2 separate regions of the Homo sapiens genome follow, and region 2 is linked to region 1. A link means that fine-mapping ties the variant in region 1 to the expression of a gene that starts in the linked region. Tissue or cell type: whole blood. Region 1 holds a variant in brackets; the other region holds the start of a gene. All regions are shown on one strand. Distances are from middle to middle.

What was found. PIP is the estimated chance that this variant, and not a neighbour inherited with it, causes the effect.
Region 2: it holds the start of LFNG, and the variant in region 1 is fine-mapped to the expression of LFNG in whole blood (INTERVAL, PIP 0.92).

Annotation. Positions count from the first base shown.
Region 1 is chr7:2,351,473-2,362,336 of GRCh38, forward strand. It overlaps EIF3B (eukaryotic translation initiation factor 3 subunit B), which reads left to right and starts at 3,355. Exons shown (of 19, transcript NM_001037283.2): 1 at 3,355-3,948; 2 at 9,238-9,430. The coding sequence starts at 3,450. It also overlaps a transcript of SNX8 not described here. RefSeq lists enhancers at 2,146-2,701, 2,372-2,441 and silencers at 3,242-3,381, 3,562-3,651, 3,702-3,811. The variant G/A (reference allele first, on the strand shown) is at 3,103.
Region 2 is chr7:2,514,577-2,524,011 of GRCh38, forward strand. LFNG (LFNG O-fucosylpeptide 3-beta-N-acetylglucosaminyltransferase) reads left to right here and starts at 5,198. Exons shown (of 8, transcript NM_001040167.2): 1 at 5,198-5,717. The coding sequence starts at 5,286. RefSeq lists silencers at 4,724-5,253, 5,264-5,373 and enhancers at 7,305-7,434, 7,475-7,534, 8,401-8,913.

The sequences.
Region 1 (10,864 bases):
AAGCTACAGTGAGGTGCGACGGCACCACTGTACTCCAGCCTGGGTGACAGAGTGAGACCCTGTTAAAAAATAATAATAGGCCAGGCGCAGTGGCTCACGCCTGTAATCCCAGCACTTCGGGAGGCCAAGGCGGGCGGATCACGAGGTCAGGAGAGTGAGACCATCCTGACTAACAGGATGAAACCCGTCTCTACTAAAAATACAAAAAATTAGCCGGGTGTGGTGGCAGGCGCCTGTAGTCCCAGCTACTCGGGAGGCTGAGGCAGGAGAATTGCTTGAACCCGGGAGGTGGAGCTTGCAGTGATCCGAGATAGCACCACTGCACTCCAGCCTGGGCGACAGAGTGAGACTCCATCTCAAAAAATAAATAAATAAATAAATAAAGATAATAATAAAAACAAAAAATCGAGTAAGTTTTTGTTGTTGTTGTTGGTTTTTTTTTTTTTTTTTTTTTGAGATGGATTTTTGCTCGTTGCCCAGGCTGGAGTGAAATGGTGCAATCTCCGCTCACTACGCCCTCTGCCTCCAGGGTACAAGTGATTCTCCCGCCTCAGCCTCCTGAGTAGCTGAGATTACAGGCATGTGCCACCATGCCTGGCTAATTTTTGTATTTTTAGTAGAGATGGGGTTTCACCATGTTGTTCAGGCTGGTCTCGAACTCCTGACCTCATGTAATGCATCCGCCCACCTTGGCCTCCCAAAGTGCTGGGATTACAGGTGTGAGCCACCATGCCCGGCCATAATTTCCTTCTTCTAATAAGGACATCAATCACTGATTTAGGGTCCACTCTCGTCCACTTTGACTTCATCTTGATTACATCTGGGAAGACTGCTTCCAAACACAGTAGCCCCCCCGACCCCCAGTTTCACATTGCACTGTTTCAGTTACTTATGGTCAATTAGGTTGGAAAATATTACATAATGAAGAAAATTTGACAGAGAGAGACACAGACACACCACCAGACACCACATCCACATAACTTTTATGACAATATATTGTTATAATTGTTCTATTAGTTATTGCTGTTAATCTCTTACTGTGCCCTATTGTAAGCATGCATATGTAGAAAAAACATACTCCCAGGCGTATTGGCTCACACCTGTAATCCCAGCACTTTGGGAGGCCGAGGCAGGCGGATCACAAGGTCAGGAGATCGAGACCATCCTGGCTAATACGGTGAAACCTCGTCTCTACTAAAAAAATACAAAAAAAATCAGCCAGGCGTGGTGGCGGGCACCTGTATTCCCAGCTACTTGGGAGGCTGAGGCAAGAGAATGGCGTGAACCCGGGAGGTGGAGCTTGCAGTGAGCCGAGATCGTGCCACTGCACTCCAGCCTAGGCGACAGAGCAACACTCCGTCTAAATAAAAAAAAAAAAAATTGTCATCCCTTATTGTACAGATGCGGAAACTGAGGTGGAGGCATTAAGTGACCTGCCCAAAGATACACCACTGACAGCATGATGAGGAGTAGTCAAACCTGGTACTAGGCATGGGAAGACTCTGCTTCTTTTTCGCTCTTTTAAACACCGTTAGGATGGGATGGGTGTGGTGGCTCATGCCTATAGTCCCGGCACTTTGGGAAGCTGAGGGAGGAAGACTGCTTGAGGCCAGGAGTTTGAGACCAGCCTGGGCAACACAGTGAGATGCTATCTACAAATAAAGAAATTAGCTGGGCACGGTGGCACATACCTTCAGTCCCAAGTACTTGGCAATGTACTTAATGTCACTGAACTGTACACTAAATTGCATATTAAAATGGCTAGGCCCTGCGCGGTGGTTCACGCTTGTAATCCTGGCACTTTGGGAGGCTGAGGTGGGAGGATTCTCTTGAGGCTGGAAGGTCCCGATTGCAGCGGCGCTGTGATTATGCCACCGCACTCTAGCCTGGGCAACAGAGCGAGACCCTATCTCTGAAAACAAACAAAACAAAAAAACTATAGGATGAAATATACATAAAATTTACCTTTTTGGCATTTTATTTTATTTTTTCGAAGACAGGGTCTCGCTATGTTGCCCTGACTGGTCTTGAACTCTTGGGCTCAAGTGATCCTCCTGTCTTGGCCTCCCAAAGTACTGGGAAGAGAGGTGTGAGCCACCGCGCAGGGCCTAGCCATTTTAATATGAAGTTTAGTATACAGTTCAGTGGCATCAAGTACATTCACCATGTTGTACCATCACCACCGTCATCTCCAAAACGTTCTCATCCTCCCAAATTGAAGGTCCGTCCCCGATAAACACTCCCCACTCTCCACCCCAGCCTCTGGGTACCACCTGTTTTATTTATTTATTTAATTTTCGTAGAGATGAGGGCTGGCGTGCGGGGGGTGGTGGTGCTATGTTGGCAAGGCTGGTCTCCAACTCCTAAGCTCAAGCGATCTTCCCACCTCAGCCTCCCAAAGTGCTGGGATAACAGGCGTGATCCACTGGGTTGTTTTCTAGGATGATTAAGACATCCCCCAACCAGTGGTTGTCCTCCACTCCGGCAAAAAACAAGATAGAAGCCACATGCACCCAATGCCCGTCCCGTGAGCACCCGCGCAGAGCGAACCGCTCCGGTCCCTCCGGAGTCAGCCTCGAGCTCCACGCGGCGAGGACCCGCCCCCGCCCCCACGTGACCCGCGCTGTCCCGCGCTGAAGGCGGCGGCCTCGGATGGACTGAACCACTGTGAAAGCCCGAATGGGGGGAAACAGGCAGTGACGGCCGCTAGGGAAGGACTGGGGGTAAGCGATTAAAGAAACTTCCATACATTTTTGTATCGCGCCAGGCAGTCGTCCTTCTAGTCGTGTGGGCCCTCTCTGGCTCGCCCCGAATTCCTTTTCTATTTTGAAGTAGTCTGTCCTTTTGCTCAGTCAGTAGGCGAGTCCAAGTGACAGACACGGACAGGGGGGACTTTAGTAACGTAAACTAAACGGTTTCCCTAGCGAAAGGCTCAGACGCCCTGAGCAATCGCCTGTTGAGTCTCCACTCTTCCAGGGTATTAACTGTTGAGTTAGAGGACATTTTCCTAGCATTCCGGGTACTAAAATCATTTCTTGTCCCCGCCTTCAGCTCCACAAATAGTTCAGTCCCGCCCCGCAGCGTCCGACGGGAAAGGAAAGG[G/A]GGAGGACGCCATGTTGGACGGAACCATCTGCTGCCACACATGGGGTGGTCAATGCTCCCATGAGTTTACTGATGCACAGAAACAACCTTGCTGAATGGAATTAAGCACTTTCTTGTCACAAATATATCAGTTTGATGATTTTCGGGCGCGGTCTTGTGGATGCGAGTCCTCTCAGGGTCGTTCGTGAGGCCCCAGGGCGTGGGTGCGCCCCCCGCCCCGCGGCCTTGGTGCGGCCTCCCCGTCGCACGCACATGGCTGGGCTGTAGCCGTCGCGGCGCGCGGTGCGGCCTGGGAGAGTCGGAAGCGCGGCGGCCGCGGAGCCCTGCGAGTAGGCAGCGTTGGGCCCATGCAGGACGCGGAGAACGTGGCGGTGCCCGAGGCGGCCGAGGAGCGCGCCGAGCCCGGCCAGCAGCAGCCGGCCGCCGAGCCGCCGCCAGCCGAGGGGCTGCTGCGGCCCGCGGGGCCCGGCGCTCCGGAGGCCGCGGGGACCGAGGCCTCCAGTGAGGAGGTGGGGATCGCGGAGGCCGGGCCGGAGTCCGAGGTGAGGACCGAGCCGGCGGCCGAGGCAGAGGCGGCCTCCGGCCCGTCCGAGTCGCCCTCGCCGCCGGCCGCCGAGGAGCTGCCCGGGTCGCATGCTGAGCCCCCTGTCCCGGCACAGGGCGAGGCCCCAGGAGAGCAGGCTCGGGACGAGCGCTCCGACAGCCGGGCCCAGGCGGTGTCCGAGGACGCGGGAGGAAACGAGGGCAGAGCGGCCGAGGCCGAACCCCGGGCGCTGGAGAACGGCGACGCGGACGAGCCCTCCTTCAGCGACCCCGAGGACTTCGTGGACGACGTGAGCGAGGAAGGTGAGGGCGCCCGGGGCGGGGCTGGCGAGCGGCGCGGGAGCGTGGCTGGGGTTCCCGAGGTGGGAGATATCGTCGGGCTGTGCCACCGGTTCGTGCAGAAGTTCCAGCGAGGGTGTCCGTGTGTTCCTGAGAAGCCACCGAGGGAGGGGTTCCCGAGTGCCCTGGAAGTGTTCTGAGAGCCCAGCGCCTCCCCTTTTCTTTCCTGAAAAAGGGGACAGGGTGGAGCTCACTTCGGGAGCCAGGCATTTGCATGACAACCAGAAATCTGAGAGGGTGGGAGAGGGCACATGGGGTACTCCGTTATGGCTGGGTGTGCTGTGAGTGTAGCAGCTGGGGGTACGGCAAAAACCGAAGACCCGGTGGCAGGTTTGCGGGTCTACGTGTCCCCAGAGCTGACCAGTCAGACCTCCCAAGGTCTGGATCGGAGGAACAGCTTGTGGCAGAGCCGGTGATTTTGTCCTCCTGCCCCTCAGAATTGTCCATCTCCAGAGACTTCCTTAGTGGGACAGGCACCCTGTGAAATTCCAGTTTGATTTTTCTTTATCTCTTGCGCTAAATCTATAAAGAGAGTTATTTTTCCAGGTTTTAATATTGCCGATAACAGCCAGCTTTGCCTTCATCTCAACCTTGATTGGATTTACAGGCATATTTTTGCTTCCTGTCTCAGAGATTTTTTCCTGAAGCTACTTCTGATGAGAGCTGGTCTCATTTGTTTTTCTTTTGTTTTTTAGCTCTCTTAAGCCTTTAAGTTGGGAACACATCAGCCTCTGCAGATTGGCTAAGTTGATACTAGAGTGAGAAAAATAAAAATACCCTTGCTGATGTAGCCAGCGATACACCAGGACAATTTCGGGAATAACATGGAGTTGCCAATTTATGATTTAAACGTATTTTTAAAAGGCTATCAGAGGGCCGGGCTGGGTGGCTCACGCCTGTAATCCCAGCACTTTGGGAGGCCGAGACGGGTGGATCACGAGGTCACCATCCTGGCTAACACGGTGAAACCCCGTCTCTACTAAAAATAAAAAAAAATTAGCCGGGCGTGGTGGCGGGCACCTGGATTTCCCAGCTACTCTGGAGGCTGAGGCAGGAGAATGGTGTGAACCTGGGAGGCGGAGCTTGCAGTGAGCCGAGATCCTGCCACTGCACTCCATCCTGGGCGACAGAGCAAGACTCCGTCTCAAAAAAAAAAAAAAAAGAAAAAGAAAAAAAGGTTATCAGAAATACAAGTCAGCCAGGTGTGCTGGTGCACACCTGTAGTCTCAGGTACTTGGGAGGCTGAGGCACGAGAATCACTTTAACCCAGGAGGTGGAGGTTGCAGTGAGCCTAGATCCCACCACTGCCTGGGCGACAGAGTGAGACCCTGTCTCAAAAAGTGAAAAATTAAAAAATAAAAACGCTGTCAGTTACTGTGACCATTACTATATTACACTTTTTTTTTTCATAAAAGACATTTTAGCATGAAAAGCAGGAAGGACACCACAAACTAAAGACTTTGGGAACATCTAGTCTACGCCCCTCAGTCCTGAGGAAACTTGTCCCTGAAGGTGGAGTAGGCTGCTGAGAATTCCCAGTGGGTCTATACTGCTTGGCCCACCAGACTCTCCTGCTCAGAACAGTGTTCTTTCTAACGCTTCAATTGTTATTATGGTTTAAAAATCAAAACTTTTGGTTTAATGATTATTTTGAGCCCTTGGATATTCTGCTACTTTTTTAAAAAGCATTATTTGAGCCCATCGAATTCACAGATTTCTAATACGTAGATTACTTCTGGAATTGGGAAGAGTCAGAGGATGCTAATATGACGACAGGGTTGGCCAGGCTGGGTGACGGCTGTGGGTCCTCAGCGGGCCCACGTGGCCCTGAAGGTGCAGTGTTGGCCAGAGTGACAGGTGAGGCATCTGGTCCTGAGGACTAAGGCTCAGGAAGCCGACTTTGTCATGGCCCTCCTGGTTGTGGTAACGCAGGTTTTGTGCTTTATGAGAAGAGCTGCCCTTCAGGGTCATTGTGCAAGACCGTAGGTGACTGTATCAGTTCTTTCCAGAAGGGCCAAGTCTTCCAAGGAGCAGGCCAGAGGTGGCCTGGAGTCCCTGTCTTGCTTTATTACTTTTTTGGTACAGATTAGCTTCTCAAACTGTAATCATCCTTTCAGTTTAATGTTTCAGCTGATCCAGGATTTTAACTCTAAATGTCTTTTTTGGCTCATTAACTATTCTTTCTCTTTCTATTTGCTATTTAGTGTTGAGAATTGTTCTCTTCTGTTTTTCCTGGAGACCGCTTGGGAATCCATGAGCCACGTGTAACCGATGCTTGGGCTGAGAGTGATCAAGGCGTTGTGTCTTCATGGTGTAGTTACTTCATTTATTTCCTTCCTACGTGTGGGCAGTTTCTCCTAGACTAGACGCTTTGAGCTTGTGGGAAGGAGTACCCAATTTGTGTAAAAGTTGAGCTTTTTATTGCAGCCTTATAAATTCAGATCAGGCTTGTCAGGCTATTTAATTGTATGGTAAGTGCTTTAGAAGTTACCCTAGGATTTGACTAGTTTCCATAGCAGGGTGTCCGGCACTGCAGTGACTGGCAACTGCCTTTTTCCCTTTTTTTTTCTCTTGTTCGTCTCAATTTTAGCATCGTTGAAAATAAAACGGCGATTATTTTTTAAGGCAGTATTTTCAATATTTCCTTTTTTTTTTTGAGACAGAGTCTCATTCTCTTGCTCAGACTGGAGTGCAATGGCTCACCGCAGCCTCTGCCTCCCCGCTTCAAGCGATTTTCCTGCCTCAGCCTCCCAAGTAGCTGGGATTATAAGCATGTGCCACCATGCCTGGCTACTTTTTGTATTTTTAATACAGATGGGGTTTTGCCTTGTTGGCCAGGCTGGTCTCGAACTCCTGGCCTCATGTGATTTGCCTTCCTTGGCTTCCAAAAATGCTGGGATTACAGGCGTGAGCCACCATGCTGGGTCAGTTTTCAATATTTCCGAAAGTGTTTTTTTGAGACGGAGTCTTGCTCTGTCGCTGGAGTGAGCCACCATGCCCAGCCAACTTTTGAGAATAAATACAGTAAAGAATATTTTCGGACATCTGCATATTTAGTATGTTGGAATTATCATTATTATTATTATTTGAGATGGAGTCTCACTCTGTCTCCCAGGCTGGAGTGCAGTGGCATGATCTTGGCTCACTGCAACCTCCATCTCCTGGGTTCAAGCGATTCTCCTGCCCCAGCCTCTCCAGTAGCTGGAATTACAGGCACCCACCACCATGCTTGGATCATTTTTCTCGTATTTTTATTAGGGACAGGTTTCACCATGTTGGCCAGGCTGGTCTTGAACTCCTGGCCTCAGGTAATCTGCCTGCCTCGGCCTCCCAAAATGCTGGGATTACAGGCGTGAGCCACTGAGCCTGGCCGTGTTCTAAATTCTGACACGTGATGCTTTCCAGCAGCCCTGCGAGGCATTTCATCACATCAAGAACAGCTTCACCTACCACTAAGAAAAAAATACTGTTATTTAATCTCAGTGGGGGTGGCAGCTCCCACCTGTAGTCCCTGCTACTTGGGAGGCTGAGGCAGGAGGATTGCTAGAGCCCAGGAGTTCCAGGCTAGCCTGGGCAGCATAACAAGACCCTGTCTCTTTACAAAGAAAAAAAAAAGTTGTTTCAGGAGCTTGTATATTCTCCAGTCTCCTAGTTTAAGTGCCGGTCTCTGCCCTGATAGTGTTTTTCAAAAAGGCTCTTTGTGATATAATTAAGAAATGTGTATTTGGGCTCTGCCTGGCTCTTGGCACTCAGCGTCTAAACCCTTGTAATTTCCAAAGTGGTAAGTGTCTTTTTGTAGACGAGGACTTGATTGATGGCTGGGGCTCCTTGCCAGGGAACCAACCACGTGATTAGAGGGTGGGACCTTTTAGGTCTCCCCCTGCCACCCAGAAGGAAGAGGGCTGAAAGTTGAGTTGATCACCGGTGCTCAGTGATGTCATTAATCACGCCTCTATAATGAGATCTTCATAGAAACCCAAAAGGACCAGGTTCAGGGGCTCCATGCAGCGGAACAGGTGGAGGCTTCTGCAGGGTGGTGGCCTGGAGAGCACAGGGAGGCTCTGCGCTTCTCCTCCATCTGCCTTTTCGTCTATATCCTCTGTAACGTCCGTTATAATAAGCTGGCAAACCTAGCTCTCTGAATTCTGTAAGCTGCTGCAGTAAATTAATGGAACCCAAGAAGCGAGGGATAGTGGGAGCCCTGCTTTGTAGCCTGTCGGTCAGAACCGGAGGTGACAGCCCACTACTTGCGACTGCCATCTGAAATGGGGGCCAGTCTTTGGGGCTGAGCCTTCAGCCTGTGGGATCTGATGCTAATTCCTGGTAGATAGTGTCTGAATTGGATTAAGTTAGAGGACACCCAGCTGGTGGCCCCTGGAGAACTGCTTGATGCGACACCCACGTCCGGTGTCAGGCGTTGTGTTGAGTGTTACGTGAGTAGGAAAGACACTGTCACATCCCTGTCTCCTGCAGTTCAGTTGTTTATCCTTAGAGCTTTTTAACCTAAGGAATATTGGGTAAAGATTGTTCTGAACGAAGGTGCGTGGTGGTGGGCTCTGCAGCGGAGAGAGGTGGGGAAGCTCACCCCAGACGCGCTTCCTCTTTGGGTTTTTTCCCCATCCCCTGTGAATGGCCATCCAGTTCACGGCCTGAAAACATGAAAATCACTGGGAACAGGAGGTGGGAGAAGAGTTACTACTTTCATCCCAGTTCACTCGAGAGAGGGTTCCTCCTTGAATAATTTCTGGTAATTTGTATTCACAGCACAAATGTGCTGTGAATATATTGAGCATTTAAATATTTACTTGTTTGCTAAAATCTTCTGTAAAAAGTCAGTTTTCATTGACATTGGGATGGGATTCTGCCTGCCTAGATGTTGCAACAAACCTTTCAAAATCTAGGCATCTCTGGAAGATCTAATAGTGGATATTCTTGAGATGGTCTTCTTCATTTGCATTGTGCATTGTTAAAAGCTTTTCACTGTTATTCTCCTGTAGTCTTTGGTTATTACCAGAACTTAATTGACCTGTCTTGACTGTTTACATTTCCATCAAAGGGAGAGAGGAGAGTTCCAGTCCCCCCAGCTGTCATGTTTAAAATCTGAAACAAGCTAGGGTTAGGATTTCTTTTGCTCACAGTGAAAGCATTTAGACAATTCATTGTCTCTTCTTGAAGACTTGTTTAGTGTGCTCAGTTAATGTATTAATGTTTTTCTTGGTAAAAATGATCATTTGAAAAATCTCTCTTGTTCAGAATTACTGGGAGATGTACTCAAAGATCGGCCCCAGGAAGCAGATGGAATCGATTCGGTGATTGTAGTGGACAATGTCCCTCAGGTGGGACCCGACCGACTTGAGAAACTCAAAAATGTCATCCACAAGATCTTTTCCAAGTTTGGGAAAATCACAAATGATTTTTATCCTGAAGAGGATGGGAAGACAAAAGGGTGAGTGTTCTCCTGTTGGAGAAGTATCATCTGTGTCTGGCACGTCATGATGAGGGAGTGTTGCAGGAGATCCTTACTAACACAGCTCCTGCCTTGCCCAGGCACGTGGGCCGTTCACTTCTTCAGGCCGCCCTCAGCTGGAAGCTATCCAGAGCAGTGAATGAGAAGATGATAAAGTTTGTTTTTTTAAGTTAAGGTTTTAAAGTTTTTAAAATTATCTAGAATAGGCCAGCATGGTGGCTTATGCATAAACTCCCAACACTCTTGAAGCCTGAGGCCAGGAGTTGGAGGCTGCAGTGAGCTATGATAACGTAGCTGTACTCCAGTCTGGGTGACAGAGCAAGACTCTGTCTCTAAAATAAATAAATAAAGTAAAAACTAACTAGAATAGTTTTAGTTTCTAGAATTATCAAATACAGGTAATGCTGCTGCATTTTCTGTGTTGGGCAGTCAGTTGAAGGATGGCCTCTTGACCCTCAGTTACTCGTGTTATAATGAAACATTCTCTGAGGTTCTTTCTTTCTTTCTTTTTTTTGAGTCGGAGTCTCGCTCTGTCGCCCAGGCTGGAGTGCAGTGTCGCAATCTCGGCTCACTGAAAGCTCCGCCTCCCAGGTTCACACTATTCTCCCGCCTCAGCCTCCCTAGTAGCTGGGACTACTGGCGCCCGCTACCACGCCCGGCTAATTTTTTGTATTTTTAGTAGAGACGGGGTTTCACCATGTTAGCCAGAATGGTCTCGATCTCCTGACCTTGTGATCCACCCGCCTCGGCCTCCCAAAGTGCTGGGATTACAGGCCTGAGCCACCGCGCCCGGCCTCTCTGAGCTTCTTTCTAATCTTGCCTGTAATACACAATATTAGACTACTTTTAAGTTTTTTTTGTTTGTTTGTTTGTTTGAGACAGTCTCACTCTTGCCCAGGCTGGAGTGCAGTGGTGTGATCTCAGCTCACTGCAACCTCCGCCTCCCGGGTTCAAGCAATTCTCCTGCCCCACCCTCCCAAGTAGCCGGGATTACAGGCGCACACTACCACGCCTGGCTTGCTTGCTTGCTTATTTATTTATTTATTTATTTATTGAGACAGAGTCTTGCTCTGTCACCCAGGCTGGAGTGCAGTGGCACGATCTTGGCTCACTGCAACCTCCGCCTCCCAGGCTCAAGCAATTCTCCTGCCTTAGCCTCCTGAGTAGCTGGGATTATAAGCATGTGCCACCATGCCCGGCTAATTTTTGTATATTTAGCAGAGACAGGGTTTCACCATGTTGGCCGGGCTGGTCTCGAACTCCTGACCTCAAGTGATCTGCCCACCTTGGCCTCCCAAAGTGCTGGGATTACAGGTGTGAACCATTGCGCCCAGCCAAGATTTTTTTTTAAACAGCTTTATTGAGATAATTGATATACAGTAAATCTGCATAGTTTTAAAGCGTACAATTTAA
Region 2 (9,435 bases), 160 kb after region 1:
TCCATCCATTCATCCATCCATCTGTCCATCCATTCATCTGTCTATCCATCCATCCATTCATCCATGCATCCATCCATCCGTTAGTCTGTCTGTCCTTTCACCTATCCTTCCAGCCATCCATACATCCATCTATCCATCTGTCCATTCACCTGTCCATCCATCCATCCATTCATCCATCCATGCATCCATCTGTCCATTCATCCATGCATCCATCCATCCATTCATCTGTCGGTCTGTCTGTCCATCCATCCATCCATCCATCCATCCATCCATCCATTCATCTGTCTATCCATCCATCCATTCATCCATGCATCCATCCATCCATTCGTCTGTCTGTCCATTCACCTATCCTTCCATCCATCCATGTATCTATCCATTCATCCATCTATCCATCTGTCCATCCATCCATCCGTCCGTCCATCCATCTGTCCATTCATCTGTCTATCCATCCATCCATCCATCCATCCATCTGTCCATCCATCCATCCATCTGTCCATCCGTCCATCCATCCATCCATCCGTCTGTCTGTCTGCCCATCCATCTGCCCCTCCATCTAACTGTTCATCCATCCACCTTTCCATCCATCCATCTATTCATCCATCCATCCATCCGTCCCTCCATCTGTCCATCTGTCTATCCATTCATTCATCCATCCAACCATCCATCCATCTGCCAATCTATCTGTCCATCTGTCCATCCATCTGTATGTCCATTCCCCCCACCATCAGTTCAACCAGTGTTTACTGAGCACCTACTTTGTGCCAGGCCCTGACAAGCAGCAAGAGGCAGCCTCTTCCCCCAGGGACACAGACGTAAAGGAGCAGCTACAACCTCATGTGATCAGCACCAGGATGGGGGTAGCAGAGGGGGATGGGGAGGACGTTCTAGGAGGGGTAGCCCTTGGTGGGCCCTGCAGGGTGCCTCAGGCCAGGATGCCCCCCGAAGCCTTGCTCAGCCACTGAGGCCAAGTCGGCTGAACTCTAATGGGCCTGGCCTCTCTGTCCATGCCTGACCCCAGAGTGCAGGCAAAAGGGCCAGGCCACTGTTGGAAAGGCCGTGGCTTCACGGCTGCAGAGCACCAACCCCAAGGCAGCCTGGTGGGCAGGGCGGGTGAGGCACCAGCCATATCCCTATTACAGAGTCAAGTAACGTCCCAAGACCCACAGAAGGGCACTGGCCCAAGACCACACAGTGGGCGAGGGGTCTGGGCATAGCAGGCAGGCAGGGTTGGGAATGGTGGGGGTGCTACTCACAGCTGGAGTCTGCTAGTCTCAGGGCAGTGCCCACTCCAGCTGCAGTAATGGGAATCAGCTGTGCCACCCTGCGGTATCCCTCCCCCGGCCTTGGGAGCCGGCTGTGCTGAGCCCAGCCAACCTTCCCATCACCCTCCTTCCTGCCACCAAGGGCTGCTCACAGAAGCTCCTGGGTCGGGACACTCACTAGGCCACGCCTGCCTTTTGGAAATCCATGGGCCCCCTGGCATCTGGGGGCTTCAAACACTGCCAGTTCTGATGCCTGGCCCCAGCCTGGGGGTTGGCATTCCTGCGTCTGTGTCAGGAGAGGACAGGGAGGTGCAGGCTTGCCCGAGCCACAGCCACCACCATGCTGAGTCCTGTCCAGGAGTTTCCATCTCTGGGCACTGCTACTGGCCCAGAGGAAGCTGGTTCCCAAGACACTGAGTGGGGCCGCTCTCCATCAGCCGATGAGTGGACAGGCGCCTCGGATGGCTTCCTGCCGAGTTAATGGGTCACCCATTATGTCTCCACAGATCTTCCCAGGACCCTGCAGGAAGGCAGGCCAGAGCAGCCCCAAGGAACAGCCCGGGGGAGGGAAGGCAGATGGCCACCTCAAAGCCAGCCCCGAGCCCTTCCCCTCTAGGCCTGAGTGTCAAGGGCAGACCCAGCCCATGGCTTTGGGGACCTGGTGGCACTGACTCCAGCAGGAGAACCCCCGGGCTGAGCCCTGGCAGTTAGAGGAGGCCTGGACTCAGATGGGGACAGAACACTGTCTCAGCCTGATGGCGGCTAGAGGAGGAGGGTAGGGCCCCTGGTCATGTGGGTCCTGGCTCCGTGGGCCTGCTTTCCACCTGACCTCAGCAGGCAGGTCTCTCGGGCCATTCGCACACCCAGCTGCCTGGGAGCCCCAAACTGGGACTGGTGGAGGGGCCCTGCAGAGGGGAAGACTAGGGTCCAAGAAGCCCATGAAGCCATGCGCCAGGGCCAGAGCTGGCCTGCCTGGTCTGGATGGTATGTCATCCTTGTGTTACAAGTGAGGAAACTGAGGCTCAGGGAGTAACACCACCGGTTCAAGGTCTTAAAGCCGAGAAGTGGCCCCTCTGGGTTCGGAAGGCAGGCTGGGCCCTGGGGCAGCCTCTATCCCCAGCCCCTCTTCCCCAGGACCCTACGGCCCCAAGAGGCTTCACTGGCAACTCGGTCAGCCCTCTCTAGCCCCCTCCCCAGCTCCCCTTTGTCCTGTCCAGGGCTGAGCACCATCCCACAGCCCACTTCCCTACCAGGGCTGTGTGGCCCAGTGGGCCCCTAGAGGGAGACCTGGGGTCTGGATGGGGAGGGAAGTGTTTCAGGCTGAAGCTGAGCCTGGGGAAGCGGGCGGGGGTGGCTAGGCGGGCCACCCCCTCAACAGTTTTCAGACCTCAAGAAGTCACCACGAAATTCCATTCTCCTGACAGCAAAGAAATTGATTCACTCTTGCCAAAGCCTGCGGCCCCCACAAGAATGCTGTAAAGCTTCCTCCCGCTGCTTCCAGACAGGCAGCAGCATCAGGTCCCCCACTCCTCCCATTCCTGGCTACAGAGAGACGCGGGAACCCCCCCTACCCAGTTCTATGCATGTGCCCCTGCCAGGCTGGGCCATCCACCTCTGTATGGTCACTCCCTTGGTACAATATCCCCCTTGCTTTCTCTACAATGGGCACATTGCTCCCACGACCTGCTGGGTCAAAGGCACCGCAGTCAGGGGTAGCTGGGGAGCAGGAGTTGCGGGGGTGGGGCGGCTCAGGGCAGGAAGCCCCATCCCCTGGCCTGGGAACTGTGGGGAGATGGACTCACAGCATCTTGTCAGGTGGGGTGCAGGGTGGCATGGCACCCACCATCGGTGCCACTGATGTAAAGTCCAGGTACAGAGCACAACCCGTGCACATATTTGGGGGCTTGGCCATGCTTGGCTGCAGGGGATTGAGGAGGGATTGGGCCTCAAGAAACGGGGCTGGGACTAAGTCACGAGGTGCGTGAATATCAGGCGGGACTTTAACTCAGCCAGTGGAGAGCTATGGAGGGTTTTGCTCTTTGTGTGGGTGTGTGAGTGGCTATGATCCTAGTTGTCCAGCTGCTGCGTGGAGAATAAGTAAAGCAGGTAGGATAGGAGTGGGTGGGATGGGGGTGGAGGCTGCCCAAGTGATTCAGGGAAGAGATGATGGGGATGGATGAGGCTCCGTCTCTGAAACAATTCAGATATGGGAGAGCCTGAAGTCAGCGGTGTGACTGAAGCACGTGGGGTCATGGACACCCCTCAGTCCGGAGGCTGGGGCTGGGCTGGGACTCAGCTGACTTTGTGGGGGCAGCCAACCCAGTCACTGGGTCCTTTTCTCCCCGGCTCACCCTCAAGCCTCTCCAGCTGCATGGAGGCTCCAGGGCTAGGCTCTGGCTGATCGGAAGGGGTTTATGGCAGGAGGTGACGCCATGGGAGACTTGTCACTTGGGCACAGCCAGCACCATCTGCTGGGGCATCTGCTTTCGGAGGTGGTGACTGCTAATTACCTGGGGCCAGGAAGAGGCCTGGGAACCCCCATCCCCCACACCACCCAGCGGGTACAGGGGCTAGGGGTGGGGCCCCTGGGGCCCTAAGAGCAAATGGGCTACAGCGTCCTTAGCGGGGGGAGAGGGTCTGACAGTGGGGCCAGACATTTATCCAGTGAATTTTTTCAGAGCACCTACTATGTCCCAAAACCTGTTCCAGGTCTGAATGACACCAGGTCGCTGCTGTCTTGCGGCTGACATTCAGGTAGAGGTAAGGAGAGGGGCTCCAAGGGCACTTAAAGAATTTAAAATGCCATCTCAGGCGTGAACATAACTCCGAGGGGGGCAGTTTAGCCACGGTGGTGGCGGTGGTGGTCGTGGTGGTCGCAGAGACCCTGCTTAGGAGGGCACGGGAAGACAGCGCAGCCACGGGCAGAGCCGCCTCCGTCCACGCTTCCGGAGGACGTGGCGGGCAGGGGGCTCACACCCTGCTCAGGCGACCCTTGGCCACTTCCGGGCCCCTCGCCCCTCACCCTCGGCTGCCGGCGCGCATTCCTGCCGCCCCCGCTCGTGCGAGGGGCGGGCCCGGGCCCGTGGGAAGGGCCGGGGATGGGGGCCGTGTGCCGGGGAGGCGGGGTGGGGAGGGCGCACAGCTGGGCCGCATCTGGCCCGAGCGCAAGGAGACCAAATGGGACAGAAGGCGGCCTTTCATCCGGCGAGGGAAGTGGCGGCCTTCGTTTCTCCTCGCCATGGGGCGCCTGAGGATTTCGGGGAGCCAACCCTCCCGACGGAGGGCCAGGATCGAGGAAATCAGCCAGGGAGGAAGGAGTGGAATTTGGTTCTGGTGCTTTCTCGTTAGAACCTCGTGTCCCCACCTGCGGCACAGGTGGCCAAGCTCTTGCTCTGTACAAATAACGGCTCCCCTGAACCGAGCGCTCGGGAAGACCCAGGCGCCACCCCAGTTTGCAAGGCCTGCCGCGTCCCAAGGGGAGGAAGCCGTGCTCAGGAGGGGAAGCGCACAGCGAGGAAGTAGGATGTCCCCCGCGGTGCGTCGGAGCCCAGAGCCCGGGTCTCAGCACCCTGCCCGCTGCGCCGAGGGCGCGCCCCTCCCGTGCCGGGACGCCCGGTGCATCCCCGGACGGCGCTGGCCAGGCTGGGTTTCCTCTTCAGGGACACCGGCGCGGGCCGGGCCCGTCCCCAAGCCCCTCGGCGGCCCGCAGGGGCTACCCGGGGCGGGGGGGGTGCGGGGCGTGCACGTGCGCGCCGGGGGCGGGGCCGCTGCGCCCTCTGGGCAGTTCCCAGCCCCCAGCCGCGGCCCCACGTGGGTCTGCGGGCGTGGAGCGGCGACCGGCGCGAGGCCCCGCCCCCGAGCCCGGGAGCCAATGAGCGCACGGGGGCGGGACCGGGGCGGGGAGGTTTAAGAGCGCGGGACACTGGTGCTGCGCTGCTGGACTGCGCCGCCGGAGCGACGGGCTTCGGGTCGGTGCAAGGCAGGCGCACGGGGAAGGGCGCGCCGCGCGGCCGCCACCCCACCATGCTCAAGCGCTGCGGCCGGCGCCTGCTGCTGGCGCTGGCGGGCGCGCTGCTCGCCTGCCTGCTGGTGCTCACCGCCGACCCGCCGCCGCCTCCACTGCCCGCCGAGCGCGGCCGGCGCGCGCTGCGCAGCCTGGCGGGCCCCGCGGGGGCTGCCCCGGCGCCCGGGCTGGGGGCGGCGGCGGCGGCGCCCGGGGCGCTGGTCCGCGACGTGCACAGTCTGTCCGAGTACTTCAGCCTGCTCACCCGCGCGCGCAGAGATGCGGGCCCGCCGCCCGGGGCTGCCCCCCGCCCCGCCGACGGCCACCCGCGCCCCCTGGCCGAGCCGCTCGCGCCCCGAGACGTCTTCATCGCTGTCAAGACCACCAAAAAGTTCCACCGCGCGCGCCTCGACCTGCTGCTGGAGACCTGGATCTCGCGCCACAAGGAGATGGTGAGCCCCCCGCGGCCTGGACTGGCGGGCGAGCGGGGCGGGGACCCACCATCTGGTCCAGCTGGTGGCAGTGTCCCATGGGAGTCAGGCTGCATCCCCATCCAGCCACTAGGGCCATCTGTGGGCGACGCCAGTGCACCCCGGTGCACCCAGTTTGCCTGCTGGGGCCACTCTCCCGTTACAGTTGTGTTACTGTCCCCGGGGCCCCGCCTCCTGTCCAGCTCCAGAGTCCTGGATGGCTGCAGGACCCTACACCAGTCTCCAGTGCTTGGGGTTGGTGCCCTGTGATACTTCTCACCCCGTAAACATTGGAGCGCATTCATAGGGCATTATGTCCTCAAACTTCCACAAGCAAATTCTGTTCGGACCCACCCTCAGCTCAGACCCCTTCCTGGGGAGAAAGGCTCTTCCTTTAGAGAAGTGAGGGGTTCTGACCTCTGGGCCCTTTCCTCATCACAGTGTTAAGGTACGGGGAGGGAGGGAAGTCATTGCTGGTTGGTGGGTCCTGGGGAGTACATCTCAAAGAACTCCAGGTTTTGGGGTCTGTGTGGGGACCCTCCCCGCACAGTGCAGTAGTCTCTGAGGCCTGCAACCTTGGGCACAGCCCACTTCAGTTGGGCATCAGCTTCTTACACACACATAATTAAGACACACCCCACTTTGAACATTTCCCTCGAGGCCACAGCAGGACGGTTGGGCTGGGGCGGGATGGGGACAGTGTGTGGGGCTTGCAGTCGGGGACTGGGGGGGTGTCTCTGGGCTGGGAGATGCAGAGGCATTTGCTGTGAGGGTGGGGGCTCAGGGAAGACCCTGCACGCCTTCCTCCCTGCTCAAACCCCGGAGACCCAGGGCCTTCTGACCTGGCGCTGTCCTGTTTTGGGGCACTGTGGGTGGGTGGGAGCAGGGCTTGGTGAGGTCATGAGGGCGACGGGGAGGGGCAGGGTCCTCCCTGGTCCTGGCGTGGGGAAGGGGCCCTGGGAACCCCATGGCAGCCTCCTGGGAACACAGCGTCCCATTCCCAGGGGCTCAGCGGGCTGGCGGGAGGGGGCGGCGGGGGCCGTGGGTTTTGTTTGGCGGCCGGGCCGTTAGGATTCCCAGCGCCGGGCGGCTCTCACGCCGGCCCCTTGGGCAAGGTAACAAAGCCCCTTTCTCCAGCGAGAAAGGCGTCGGGCCCCTTGTGTGCAGCTACGCGCTCCGTGGGAACCGCTGCTGGCGTGCTGGCCACTCAGGTTGCCTGGCGATGAGGGGACCAGCGGGCCCCCCCAGCATCTCTTACTGACAGTCCTTTTGGGGCACCATCCCTGAGCCTGGCCCCCCCACCCCCAGCACTCAAGCCTTACTGCTATGTGATCTTGGGCATCCTTCAGCCCCACTCTGGGCTACCACCAGCTCTGAGCACCTCTCATCTTGGAATTTGGGGCCTTTCTCCAACAGAGGGGATGTGGTCAGAGGGCTGGGCTGTGTGATCCTGAGCAAGACCTGGGGCCTCTCAGACCCTCACTCTGATCTCTGAAATGGGGGAACATGGTCCTTCCAGGAGCACGTTGTAAGAGACTGGCAAAGCCTGCAGGCATGGGGTGAACCCGGCGGGCACTCAGGGTCGAGGTGGGGGCCATCACTCCCTTGAGCCCTGAGGTCCCTACTGGAGGGTCACCCCACCAGGGGACAGGTTGAATCTGCCCTCAGCATCAGTTCACCAGCACACAGCAAGCAAAGACCCCCTTGTGGTGGGTGATGGGCAGGGGTCCTGGAAACCCACAGAAGAGGGCCCCCCTCTCCCAGCCCTGCACGGAATGACTCAGACATGGTCTGATGGGGGAGATAGAAAGATGTCAGGGCTGTGCGGGGGGAAAACCCCGAGAGGCTGTGTGAGGCAACAGTGGGCATCTGACCCACATGCTGGGGGAAGGGAGGGAGGAGGGAAGACTTCCTGGAGGAGGCGCCATTTGAGCTAGACTAAGAGTAAAAAAGTGCCCAGAAAGGGCACTCCATCCGGGCATGGTGATGACCACAGCATGGGGGTTGTGCAGGAAACTTCTAGCAACTGGAGTGGTGGCTGGGGGGAGGGTCGGTTGGTCAGCAGGGGCCGCGCTGAGATGGGCCTGGAGTCCAGGATGAAGAGCCTGGCCTTTGGCCCAGAGGTTCCCCGCCCCTCCCAGGAGCAGCCAGGCTGCCGCGCTGCCACCACAGCGGCCACAATTGCTGGGGAGAACTTGGCATCCTGTGTTTCTTTGAATCGCGGCTCCAGGAACAATGCTGCTTCCTGTGGGTGTCCCCCGGCCCCCGCCCCCGTCCACCCTCATCCACCCGGCTCTTCCTCCTGCAGCCCCGTCTTCGTCTGGAAAGTTAGGTGGCACTGGGGGGTCTGGGTCCCTAGAAGGCAGGGACTGGGCTGGTCTAGCACCGCCTCGGCCCCAGGGTATGACCTCAGGCTGGTGCCTGCACCTCTCTGGGCCTCAGTTTCCCCACTTGGGCCTCAGCTGGTAATGGCACCCACCTCCGAGGGCTGTCAGGGAGAGGAAGGGAGAGAATCTGTCTTTGCACTTTGTTCTCTGCCCAGGGGAGCTCTGTTATGCCCATTTTACTGAAGACGAGACTGAGGCTCTGAGCGGCAGGTGAGGCCTATAGCCCAGCAGCGCCTTTTTCCTCCCCTCCTGGTGGCTCAGGTGTCGGGAGACAGTTCGACCGGCACCCCCGCACCCCATAGCCCCGCCTTCTCAGATGCTGTTCTAGAGGCCTCCCTGCTCCCTGAGCTGAACAAAGGTGACTTTAATCTCCGTAGCCTTGGGCTGGGTTTTTAGGGCACCACCAAATCTCGGGAGAACAGGCCTCCCTTGATCTCATTAAGAAAGCATTTTCCTTTTAACCCAGCGGCGCAGTGGAGCGTCTGCAGGGGCTGGCCCTCCGCCTCCCACGGCATTCCTGGGCTGAGATTCTGGGGAGGCCAAGGGGCTGGGTGCGAGTCTGTGCGTGTGGCTGCCCTGGGGTGTCTATGGGTGCTGCAGGAGGGGTGCATGCATGGAGAGGCGGAGACCCAGCCTGCCACCCCCTTAGCTCTGGGCCTCACCCTAGTGAGCATGTGCCCAGGGCTGGGTCAGGCTGGATAAGGATCTGAGACTACCAAGGTGTTCCAGGGCCTCTGCGGGACCTGTGTGTACAGGGAAGGAAACTGAGGCTGGGTGGGCATCAGGGGGTTGTCCCTTGGTCAGAGCATTGCCCGTACACCCTGGGTTTTGCACTCAGCCATGCCAGGGTGCGCCGGGCGGCACGCGCTGGGCGGGCCGGGCAGAGGAAGGAACATTCCTCCCCGTGTGCCGGCAGGCCCAGGCGGGCGCCGGCGACTCCTGGCCCCGCCCTGGCGGCCCCCTCCTCTTCCGCAGAGCGCTCCTGGCAGGGGGCGGCCGCGTGCTGGCACAGGTGGGCTGTGGCCTTGGGCAAGCCTGGGTTTCCTTGCCTGAGCAGTGGGAGGGGTGCTGGGCTGCATGGGTACTGGGGGCCCCTGACCTGGGGGCTGGGGACACCTGAGGTTTCCTGCCACAACCCTGCTGACCGTTGGCAACTTTGCAGAACTTCAGGGCTGCTTTGGCTCAGAGTGGGTAGCTTGTCCTGCAGGTCACCCAGGACAGGGGTGCTGGCCCAAAGGGCAGCTGTGGGGTGGCTGCAGTGCTGGTGGCTGCACCCTACGCGCGGGACCTCATGCCCAGCCTGGCCCGGTTAA